Linked DNA regions of Homo sapiens. The protein of the gene in region 2 purifies or fractionates together with the protein of the main gene of each other region. This does not show direct contact. Each region holds a gene or a part of one and is shown on either strand. Other genes may lie near its edges. The genes, in order: MAN2B1, CHID1 and NPR2.

Region 1 (3,646 bases), on a different chromosome or scaffold from region 2:
ACCCACTTTGCACAGAAACACCCCTGGCTGGTCCTAGTGTGGTCACGGCACTTAAGGCCAAGCCCCCTCGAGATGCGTTGTTCTCTCTGCTGACCCAGCTTCGCAGCCCACGTAATTTCACTCCTGTATAGTCCTCCAAAAACATTTTCCAACTACCCCCTCTAAAGCCCATCTGCCCTAGATCCACCCCTCCCGTCCCGGCTCACGCGCGCCGCCGTCTGGCTGAGCGGGCAGATGCTGATGTTTAGCTGTTGGCAAAAGGTGAAGTGATCTTTGAAGCCTCTGAGCCGCGCCAGCGCGTTGCTCAGAAGAACCTGCGGAAGAGCGCAAAGGGACCGGTGGGTTCAGGACGCCAGGCCTGACTCCTCCCCTCTCCTCAGGCCCCGCCCCGTTCCGGTCTCTGTCCCGCCTCCCTCAAGAGTCGCCCCAAAACCCCTTCTAGCCCCACCCTGCTGCCCTTGACTATACCCCATAGCTGTCTCCGCCTCCTCTTGCCCACGCCCCGCCTCCTTCCCCCCTCCAAAGCCCCGCCCCGTTCCTGTATCTTTCCCCGCCTCCTACAAGCCCCGCCCCCACGAGCCCTTGTAGCCCCGCCACAGGGCTCTCGGCTACGCCTCACACCTGTCTCTGTCCCCTTTCCCAGGCCCTGGCCCCGCCCCTTCCTGTCTCCACCCCCGTGTCTCCCAAGTCTCGCCCCGCGCACCTCGCAAGGCCCCCAGCCTGCCGCAAGCTGGCGCGCGTAGTCGTTGGCCACGTGCTGGCGGGAGGTGCCGCTGACGGCGTCGTGATGCTGGAGCACAGCCATCGCCTCATCTGCTCATAGACAATGAGTCCGGTGAGGTTCTGTGGGACTCAGCTGAGACCCCAAGGGGAAGCGAAAGGTCCGGTGCTGGCGGGCAGGATTCTTAGAGGCTTTAAGAAGGAACTCGAGGACGGCTGGGGGCGGTGGCTCACGCCTGTAATCCCAGCACTTTGAGAGACCGAGGCGGGCGGATCACGAGGTCAGATCGAGACCATCCTGGCTAACATGGTGAAACCCCGTCTCTACTAAAAATACAAAAAATTAGCCGGGCGTGGTGGTGGGCGCCTGTAGTCCCAGCTACTCGGGAGGCTGAGTCAGGAGAATGGCGTGAACACGGGAGGTGGAGCTTGCAGTGAGCCGAGATCGCACCACTGCACTCCAGCCTGGGAGACAAATCGAGACTCCGTCTCAAAAAAAAAAAAAAAAAAAAAAAAAAAGAAGAAACTCGAGGGGGGCGGCCTAGGGGTGGTTTCCAACTTCAGCCGCAAACCTCTTCCCCTCTTGGGCCCGACACTTACTGAGGGGTGCACTGTCTCCGGAGCCATAGGGTCCCACGTTGGCCGCCAGGCCCACCAGCGCCTCCAGCTGGTTGCACACCTGGAGGCAGAGGGGTATGTTGGGGCGCCCAGCCTGTCGGGCCTCGGGGCTGCATGCCCCCTCTAGCCCGGCTCCTACCCACCTGCAGGAAGTTGTAGCTGAGGCGCTCGTAGCGTTTGAGGGCCGGCCGACTGGAAAAGTAACCGGTCCAGAACTGGTGGGGGCCATCCGCGTAAGGGAAGAAGTCGTCATGTTTCACTGACCTACAGCGGCAGGGGCATTGAGGGCAGGGTCATGACCCACGGGGCATGCCAACCCCCCCAAGCTCCCCAGTTTCCCCAAATACCAGGTGAGGTTGGCCTTGTTCAGCTCCCAGAGGTAACAAGCGGGGGTGGAGTAGAGAACATGGACACTGCTTCCTTTTGCCTGCTGCTGGGGGAGGCGACGGAGTGAGCCCTCGGGAGTCCGCACCTTCCTGGGGGCCCACACTTCCACACATGTGTGCACATTCATGCATCCCATAGGTTCAGTTTCTCTAAATACATATTTGGCGTGCAAGCCAATGGTTGGGTGTGAAAATGAATTTTGGCTGAAGTCAAACATGACCACTAGCCTTTTTTAAAAGGATTTCAGAGATGCAAGAATAAACCTGAAATTTTACTAAACTTTTACAATAATTCCAACTTTATTATTAAAAACTTTTGTGGAAAAACTAAGTGTGACATTATAGGGCAGGAATAATCGTTTTGCAGGACTGTCAGATTGTTACCAAAAAACACAACTTTTTTTTTTTGGGACGGAGTCTTACTTTGTTGCCCAGGCTGTAGTGCAGTGGCTCAATCTCAGCTCACTGCAAGCTCCACCTCTTGGGTTCACGCCATTCTCCAGCCTCAGCCTCATGAGTACCTGGGACTACAGGTGCCCGCCACCACACCCGGCTAATTTTTTGCATTTTTTAGTAGAGACGGAGTTTCACCGTGTTAGCCAGGATGGTCTCGATCTCCTGACCTCATGATCCGCCCGCCTCAGCCTCCCAAAGTGCTGGGATTACAGGCATGAGCCACCGTGCCCGGCCTAGACACAATTTTTATAATGAATGGAGGTGCACTTTCACCTGAGCAAGGTGGAGGAACAAGAAAGTGACCTATGTGAGGAAAAGGATGTTTGTTTTGCACGAGCTGTGTCCCCCAATGTACACAGTAGGTGCTCAATAAACTTTTTTTTTTTTTTTTTTTTTTGAGACTGAGTCTGACTCTGTCGCCCAAGCTGGAGTGCAGTGGCACGATCTCAGCTGGCTGCAAACTCCGCCTCCCAGGTTCCAGCGATTCTCCTGCCTCAGCCTGCCGAGTAGCTGGTCTTACAGATGAGTGCCATCACGCCCACCTAATTTGTAGTATTTTTAGTAGAGACAAGGTTTCACCATGTTGGCCAGGCTGGTCTCCAACTCCTGTCTTCAAGTGATCCGCCCACCTCAGATTACAATCCCAACACTTTGGGAGGCCAAGGCGGACGGATCACCTGAGGTCAGGAGTTTTGAGACCAGCCTGGCCAACATAGTGAAACCCTGCCTCTACTAAAAATACAAAAATTAGCCAGGGTTGGTGGCACATGCCTGTAGTCCCAGCTACTTGGGAGGCTGAGGCAGGAGAATCACTAGAACCCAGGAGGCAGAGGTTGCCATGAGGCAAGATCATGCCACTGCACTCCAGCCTGGGTGACAAAGCAAGACTCTTGTCTCAATAAATAAATAAATAAATAAAATTTTAAAAAGAAAAAATAAATAAAAATAAATGACATAAAAGAGCTGTTTTGGTGAAATAGCAGTGCTGGGAGCGAGTGGAAGGTGGGAATGGAGATTGCACCGTAGTGAGGACAAGATTGATGGGAAGGGGTGTCTGAGATGGGAGAGGGGAGACAAGTTTCTGTGCTGATGAGAGTGACTGACTGTGCACACAGCCACAGCCACAGGCCACTTAGTGCAAAACACTAACACATCTGTGTTGGGTAAAATGATAACTGCCCAAAAGTGTCCATGTCCTGATCCCCAGAACCTATTACCACATTAGATTACATGGCAAAAGGGGAATTAAGGTTGCAGATGGAATTGAGGTTGTTCATCAGCCAAACTTAAAGTAGGGAAATTAGGCCACACAGTGGCTCACATCTGTAATCCCAGCACCTTGGGAGGCCGAGCGGGGTGGATCACGAGGTCAAGAAATCGAGACCATCCTGGCCAACATGGTGAAACCCTGTCTACTAAAAATACAAAAATTAGCTGGGCGTGGTGGCACGCGACTGTAGTCCCAG
Region 2 (3,646 bases):
CGGTCAAAGTAACCTGTGCCGCAGCAGCACAGCCGGGTGATCAGGAACACGTGGAGACCCCAGTGCCCACCTGTCCACCCCCGCAGTTTGAGCCATCAGGGCCTCCACTCCTGGCCTGCCGCACTTACCTATGTGCAGGCCCTTGGCATGCTTCCTGACAGCTCGCATCCACCCTGTGGGACATGGAGGGGACAGTCAACACAGGCACGTGCGCCCAACTGGAAGACCCAGCCTACCTGAGGAGGAAAACGTGGCAGCCGCACAATACGCAATGGGAAGGGCAGGGGCGGGCAGGCAGGTGTGAGAACCCACCCCTCCCTGGCCCAGGGCTGGCTCTCCACACCCTCTTCCTGACCCCAACTCTCCACCCTTCTGGCCAAGGCCCCCTTCCTGACCCTGCAGAGCAGCTCTGAGCTTACCCTCCCTGAGCTGGGACAGCTCAGAGCCTGTGGCCGGCCAGGGGAACAGGCAGCTGCATCCTAGGGCCTGGGGACGGTCAGGGTTTCTCCGAGCTGAGGGATGGCCAGACCCGCCAGGCCCTGACACTGGCTGACATTCCATCACCTCCCCACGGTTCTCTCAGTGTCAGGGAAAACCACTCCTGCTCTCTGAACTCCAAAACTGCCTAACACTTCCCCTGCCATTTCTCTCTGTCCGAGCCCAAACGCAAGGCGCAGCCACGTAAACTCGGGCAGACGTCATCAGGTCAGGATGTGCCATCAGGAGGCAGCCTCCGCCTGAACCCCACCTTCCTCCCTGGCATTGAATGAAAATCGCTGAGAGAGGGACAGAGGAGGAGAAGCCAATGGCCCGTGCCGTTTGCTGCCCAGAGGCTGCCTGAGTCATTGTAGAGCCTGTCCTGCACACGCCTGTGTGCAGCCCGGAAGTGCAAGGGAAGGCCACCCTCACAGCCACCTGGACCACACGCAGACCTGGGCGGAACACTCTGAGGCACCAACTTGGCCTTGCAGAGGGTCCCACCGTGGCGACCACCTCAGAAACCCCCTCTACCAGGCCTGCCCTGCTCCACACTCACCTTCCCACTTAGCACACCAGCCCACACCATGGGCCTGCTCTGCCGGCTGGGCCCCAAGGGGTGAGGGCGTGGTTCTCACAGTCACCACACTCAACACTCACACCCACTGTCTCACACTTAGACATGTCCACACCGACAGTCACATTCAACACACTCACAATCTCTTCTCTCCCACATCATCAGTCTCACACTTACACACTCACATTCACACTTAAATCACGCAGAGACACACACACACTCCCATACAGAGACACCCACAGAGACATACCTACTCACACACACACACCCCTGCTCTCGCACTCACACTCTTTTCAGCCTGTGGGGCAAGCACAGTCAAGCAGGAAGGATGAGAACCTTGGTCCACGTCGTGGAGGCCCGTGACCTCAAACATCTCACGGCCACGTCTCTTCAGCTGCAGCCAGACGGGTGAGATCTGTGTGAACTTGCTCCCAAAGACCTTGGTGACATCGTAGCCATGGCTGTTCCACTGGCAAAAGATGGAGACATCAGACGGAGGACAGGTGAGTGAGCACCTGTCTCACCATGGTGCTGTCATTCTGGCGCCTCTGGACGTGCCCAGGGCTGGCCAGCGTAGACAGATACCAGCCCGGACTGACATCAGCTCCTGGCCTGGGGTATCCTTCTCCTACTCTGGACTGCCACTCACAGCCTGGGACCCAGGCCACGACATCCCTTTCACCAAAAGTGACTGGTGCTTGTCTTAAGCCCCACCTGGAGCTAGTGCACACCACTGCTGCAGGCTGGCAGCTGGGAACAGCAAGAGAAGAGGAGGCTGGGTGTGAGAACCCACCCCTCCCTGGCCCAGGGTTGGCTCTGCACATCCACTTCCTGACCCCAGACGACCTGCGAGCCCACCTCTGGATTCAGGGGGAACCCACAGAGATCAGCACAGCAAGCCCCTGGAGAGACCCCCAGGGTCTTACACTCTGACATCTCCAGAATGGCATCTCTCCCACCGTAGCCTCACAGCAGCAGCAGCTCCGGGAGATCAGAACATAGACCCCCATCACTGACTGGCCAGAAGAGGCCATCACGGGGCCAGGGCAGCCCACCTGAGCCTCAGGACCTCCCTCTGCACTGTGAGGGCCCCAACTTACTGGAGTGACATAGCCCAGTACATCCCCAGCAAAGTGTCTGTCCCGGGCCTTTGCCGAGCAGTAGCTGCGATGCTCAAGAACCACACTCTCAGCTTTGAGGTCCGTCACCACCAAACCCCGGTCTTGCACCGGCTTATCTGAAAACTGACTCTGAAATAAAAGGAGTGAGAGAAAAGCCTCAGTCATCTGTCCACAGTGTAGAGCACAGAGCCCCACCCAGCAAGTCCCTTCCATTCAGCCAGCAGCCGAGTCTCTGGATCCACACAGTGCTGCTGACCCGGAGACCCTGTATGTTGAGGATCGAGGCCACAGCAGGCAATTCAATTCAGAAGCACTCTGGCCGTCAACAGACACTGGCCGACGGTACAGGGCCTTTCCCACCCTTGCTCCGGGCTGGAAGGCAGGCAGGCAGACAGACAGTTATGGTGGCTCCCTCCTTGCATGTGAGGGTGGACGGTCTGCACCAGCTCTGGCCACTCGATACCCATCCGGGCACTCCAGGGCCATACGCTTTGCTGGACAAGAACATGCCAGGTGCGCTGGGTGCATTGGCTCACGCCTGTAATCCCAGAACTTTGGGAGGCCGAGGCAGGTGGATCACCTGAGATCAGGAGTTGGAGACCAGCCTGGTCAACATGGTGAAACCCCATCTCTACTAAATATGCAAAAATTAGCCAGGCATGGTGGCGGGCACCTGTAGTCCCAGCTACTCGGGAGGCTGAAGCAGGAGAATCGCTTGAACCTGGGTGGCAGAGGTTGCGGTGAGCCAAGATCGCGCCATTGCGCTCCAGCCTGGGCAACAAGAGCAAAACTTCACCTCAAAAAAAAAAAGAAAAGAACATGCCAGGCACACGCCACCATGCTGGCCAACCACTGCCTGCCACCGCCCCCGCCAACGTGACCCTGCTGGCCAACCACTGCCTGCCACCGCCCCCGCCAATACGACCCTACTGGCCAACCACTGCCTGCCACCACCCCCACCAATGCAACCCTGCTGGTCAACCACTGCCTGCCACCCCCCTGGCCAATGCGAGTCTTTTCCTGCCATGTCACACCTGCCCCTACTCCACCTCTGCTCCTGGAAACCTTCCATCCAGTTATCAACTTGTCTCTTCTGTCCACACTCTGTGGCCCGGCTCAGCCTCCCCTTGACCTCGCCCCAAGCGGCCCCGTGAGAGAGAGATGTCCACTGCATGGTTTATTTGCCCCCATACAGCACAGAGAAAGCATCTGCCAGTCCAGGACTAGGTCACAGTTACAGTCCTGTGGCAGGGTCTGGCCAGCGGCATGGGGACTGCTGGGGCTGAGAGGTGGTTCTATGAGTTTACACCCTTGAAGGTGCAATCCCCAGGGCCATCCCAGGGGAACGTCCCAAAAAGCATGAGGCAAACACAGCTCAAGGCCATGATAAAGACAGCAAGATGAAGATGCAGGTGATATAAACGAGAGGTAGAGCATGGAAACTGGCAACTGGCACATAAAACAAGCCCCA
Region 3 (3,646 bases), on a different chromosome or scaffold from region 2:
TACTAATTAGGAAGACATGACTTGAGACCCAGGTATCAAGAGTAGCTGGATATACCAAGGAAGACCAGTTGTAAACTTTAATGCATAACCAGGCGTAGGTGGGCAAGTCGGGGTAGAGGAGGAACAAGATCTACTAGAGGGAGGTGGGCAGGTCGGGGTAGAGGAGGAACAAGATCTACTAGAGGGAGGTGGGCAGGTCGGGGTAGAGGAGGAACAAGATCTACTAGAGGGAGGTGGGCAGGTCGGGGTAGAGGAGGAACAAGATCTACTAGAGGGAGGTGGGCAGGTCGGGGTAGAGGAGGAACAAGATCTACTAGAGGGAGGTGGGCAGGTCGGGGTAGAGGAAGAACAAGATCTACTAGAGGGAGGTGGGCAGGTCGGGGTAGAGGAGGAATAAGATCTACTAGAGGGAGGTGGGCAAGTCGGGGTAGAGGAGGAACAAGATCTACTAGAGGGAATGCTGGATCAGAGAGAAAGTGCAGAACATCATAAACCTGGAAAATGGACAAAATCTGCTAAGCCAGTGCAGAAGCCTAAAACTGCTGGCTCTGTGGGTCCAGAGAGGGAAAAACCTTTGCCTCCGAGGAGCTGAAAGACAGTCTTAAAGGCCGGGCTCAGTGGCTCATGCCTGTAATCCCAGCACTTTGGGAGGCCAAGGCTGGCAGATTGCTTGAGCCCAGCAGTTCAAGACCAGCCTCAGCAACATGGCGAAACCCCACCTCTACCAAAAATATAAAAATGAGCCGGGCACTGCAGCACACGCTGTGGTCCCAGCTACTCAGGAGGCTAAGATGGGAGAATCACTTGAGCCCAGGAGGTCGAAGCTGCAGTGAGCAGTGACCTAGCCACTACACTCTAGCCTGGGTGACAGAATAAGACCCTGTCTCAGAAAAAAAAAAAAAAAAGTCTTAATGATGCTCCCCAAAAATGAAACCCTAGGAGCCACCCAAGTCAGTTCAGGTGAGACAGAAAGAGGATACAAGGTTCAATATGCTAACAAAAAACATTTCTGTCTAAATGTTTAGCTCTGGACTTAATTCATAACTCTAATCTCTATGAATTCTTCCTTTTTATTTATTTTGGTATCAACAAAACTTTTGGGAATCTCTGAAGTTGTGAATTTACTTGTGTGGAAACTGTGCAAAGGATGCCTTCAACAATCACAGGATTAGGCTTCTGGCTTTGTTGTAAATCACTTTTCCACCAAATCACTGTTCTCTCAAGAGTCGTGTCTTATGTTTATCATCACACCTCTAGTTGAGCATGACATTGGCTTTACTAATATTTTTATCTCTCATTTGATAGCAAATTTTCACACACAAAAAAATACTTTTTAAATAACTTCATGAGAATTCAGCAGAAAACCAAAGCTAGTTTCAGATACAGTGTGGGGTGATCCACTGGGATGCTCATTGGCTATGAGACTTATTTCAGAAAACCTGTCCAACTCATGCAAGATTCTATTTTATGCTCCACAAATCCATGGGCCTCTGAGTCATTTGAACATAGCTAAAACCTAGTATAACAGAAGAGTACCAAAGGTTTTTAGTACAATCTTCCTTGGTTTCTCTTAGTTCTACTAGTAAATGTTCCTTTTTTAAATTTCAGTTTTCTGAACAAAAGGGCAGACATGCCAAATATTGGTCAGAGAGTAAAATAATGAGAGGAAAAACAGGAGATAAATATGTTCGGAGAGTAAAATAATGAGAGGAAAAACAAGAGATAAATATGTTCAGGCCGGGCGCGGTGGCTCACGCCTGTAATCCCAGCACTTTGGGAGGCCGAGGCGGGCGGATCACGAGGTCAAGAGATCGAGACCATCCCGGCTAAAACGGTGAAACCCCGTCTCTACTAAAAATACAAAAAAATTAGCCGGGCGTAGTGGCGGGCGCCTGTAGTCCCAGCTACTTGGGAGGCTGAGGCAGGAGAATGGCGTGAACCCGGGAGGCGGAGCTTGCAGTGAGCCGAGATCCCGCCACTGCACTCCAGCCTGGGCGACAGAGCGAGACTCCGTCTCAAAAAAAAAAAAATATGTTCAGAGACTCCACTCATTTTATGAGTTCTTAGAGGTAAAAGAGATGATGGAAAGAGACCTGAGATATTTAAGACAGAAAGATAGAAACTCTCTACAGGCACAGGACTCCTTGTGGCAGGTAAAACTCACTGTCCCAGTTATAAGCCCCAGACTCCTTGTTTACCCATTATTACCAGACCATGGGAATAAGGGGAGATGAGAGAACAGGACTTCAGAGGACTAGAAGGAGAAAAACCACAATCAAAGAACAGTGGAAGTGATTTAAAGTGGATGAACTTTTAAGGAGTGGGGAAGACTCACCTTAACAAGGTCATTAATGAGTGAATAACGAAACATCCAGTCCAAGTTGATGCTGTCATTTTCTAGAATATCCTGGTAAGTGACATGGAATAGACTGTCTGTCCTGGTCCCACCAGCTATCACCCAGCATAGAGTCAGTATAACTTTGGGTCTATCCTTCCCACCCCTGCCATAATCTCCTACACCTATCCCTCACCTGTAAACTCCCACGAGGACAGTATTCAGTGACAATGCAAATGTTGGGAGGGTCTATGCAGGCGCCAATGAAGCGAGTGAGATGGTTGAACTGAACATCTCTCATCTGGCAGAAAAAAACAATGGGAAGGATAAGAAAATTGAAAGAGTTAAAAATTAGATACAGAAACTTACCACTACATAAGAGGACCTTTCTCTTAGTTGTATCTACGATTTTAAAATCATTTATAAATCAACCCCTTGCCCATCTAGCCAATTTTACTATTTCATAGTTTTCCCCACTCCTCCATTACATACATGTTAGAGTCCATCCTCTGTTACATACATGTTTGAGTTCAAACAGAACCTGCCGGGTCAGCTCAATGCGCTTCTTATTCACATGTTTGATGGCGACAACATTTCCCTGATGGTGGGAGTGAAAGGGGAAAGGAAAGTGAATATCAGAAGTTCTGGGTACAAGGAAATGCTAGAGAGCAGTGGAAGCACCCAGGAGCTCAGCTGGGCACAGAGAGTCGGGTATGAGGGACAGAGGTTCAGGGGCAGAGGTGGCAGATGGGGATGAGACAGGATGAAATGGTGGGGACCAGAACAAGCAAATGACTGTTCACCTTGAAGTGACCGGTGTTGGCAAAGATCTGGTATTTCCCATGGGCTGTCATGAGCGAGCCGTAACTGGATCCCCGCTGGGGCCAAGGGCAACATGGAGGCGGAAGGATGAAAGGAACATTAGATGATGGTGGTAGTGCAGGGGCTATCATTACAAGCCAATGTGCTGGGAGAGATCCAGGGTAAGAAGGGACAGGAACTCAGAGGGAGGCAGAGGAACAGCTGAGACAAGGGCTCACCAGCGACAGTGTGAGGCGACTGCCTGCACCTTTGTGATAACGCTCTGAGTTGCCAAACTGCAGTTCTTCCCAGCGAATACGCCACAACATGCTAGCCAGCTCCTTCTCCAGCATCAGCTTTCTGTAAGGACTGCACACCTCAGTTGACTGGCAAGCCGAATCCTGCCACCCCCAAGCCAACAGCAGGGTTGCAGGGGCTTCCCTGCAGCTCCTGAAGCTGCAACTGTTACACCTGAGAGACAGGGCTGGAAGATAAGGCTGCATTCTCGGC

What was found.
Region 1: the proteins of CHID1 (region 2) and MAN2B1 fractionate together in Homo sapiens (co-fractionation; one large-scale study listed by BioGRID). This does not show direct contact.
Region 3: the proteins of CHID1 (region 2) and NPR2 purify together in Homo sapiens (co-immunoprecipitation; one large-scale study listed by IntAct). This does not show direct contact.

The regions. Positions count from the first base shown.
Region 1 is NC_000019.10:12,656,743-12,660,388, forward strand, and holds part of MAN2B1 (lysosomal alpha-mannosidase isoform 1 precursor), read right to left. Parts: intron 1,772-3,646; coding exon of another isoform or gene 1,769-1,771; coding exon 1,686-1,768; intron 1,603-1,685; coding exon 1,482-1,602; intron 1,400-1,481; coding exon 1,321-1,399; intron 814-1,320; coding exon 704-813; intron 315-703; coding exon 207-314; intron 1-206. UniProt on the Homo sapiens protein: Necessary for the catabolism of N-linked carbohydrates released during glycoprotein turnover. Cleaves all known types of alpha-mannosidic linkages.
Region 2 is NC_000011.10:900,808-904,453, forward strand, and holds part of CHID1 (chitinase domain-containing protein 1 isoform a precursor), read right to left. Parts: intron 2,972-3,646; coding exon of another isoform or gene 2,897-2,971; intron 2,305-2,896; coding exon 2,155-2,304; intron 1,524-2,154; coding exon 1,391-1,523; intron 174-1,390; coding exon 129-173; intron 1-128.
Region 3 is NC_000009.12:35,801,493-35,805,138, reverse strand, and holds part of NPR2 (atrial natriuretic peptide receptor 2 isoform 1 precursor), read right to left. Parts: intron 3,506-3,646; coding exon of another isoform or gene 3,497-3,505; coding exon 3,376-3,496; intron 3,214-3,375; coding exon 3,139-3,213; intron 2,934-3,138; coding exon 2,856-2,933; intron 2,637-2,855; coding exon 2,532-2,636; intron 2,408-2,531; coding exon 2,336-2,407; intron 1-2,335. UniProt on the Homo sapiens protein: Receptor for the C-type natriuretic peptide NPPC/CNP hormone. Has guanylate cyclase activity upon binding of its ligand. May play a role in the regulation of skeletal growth.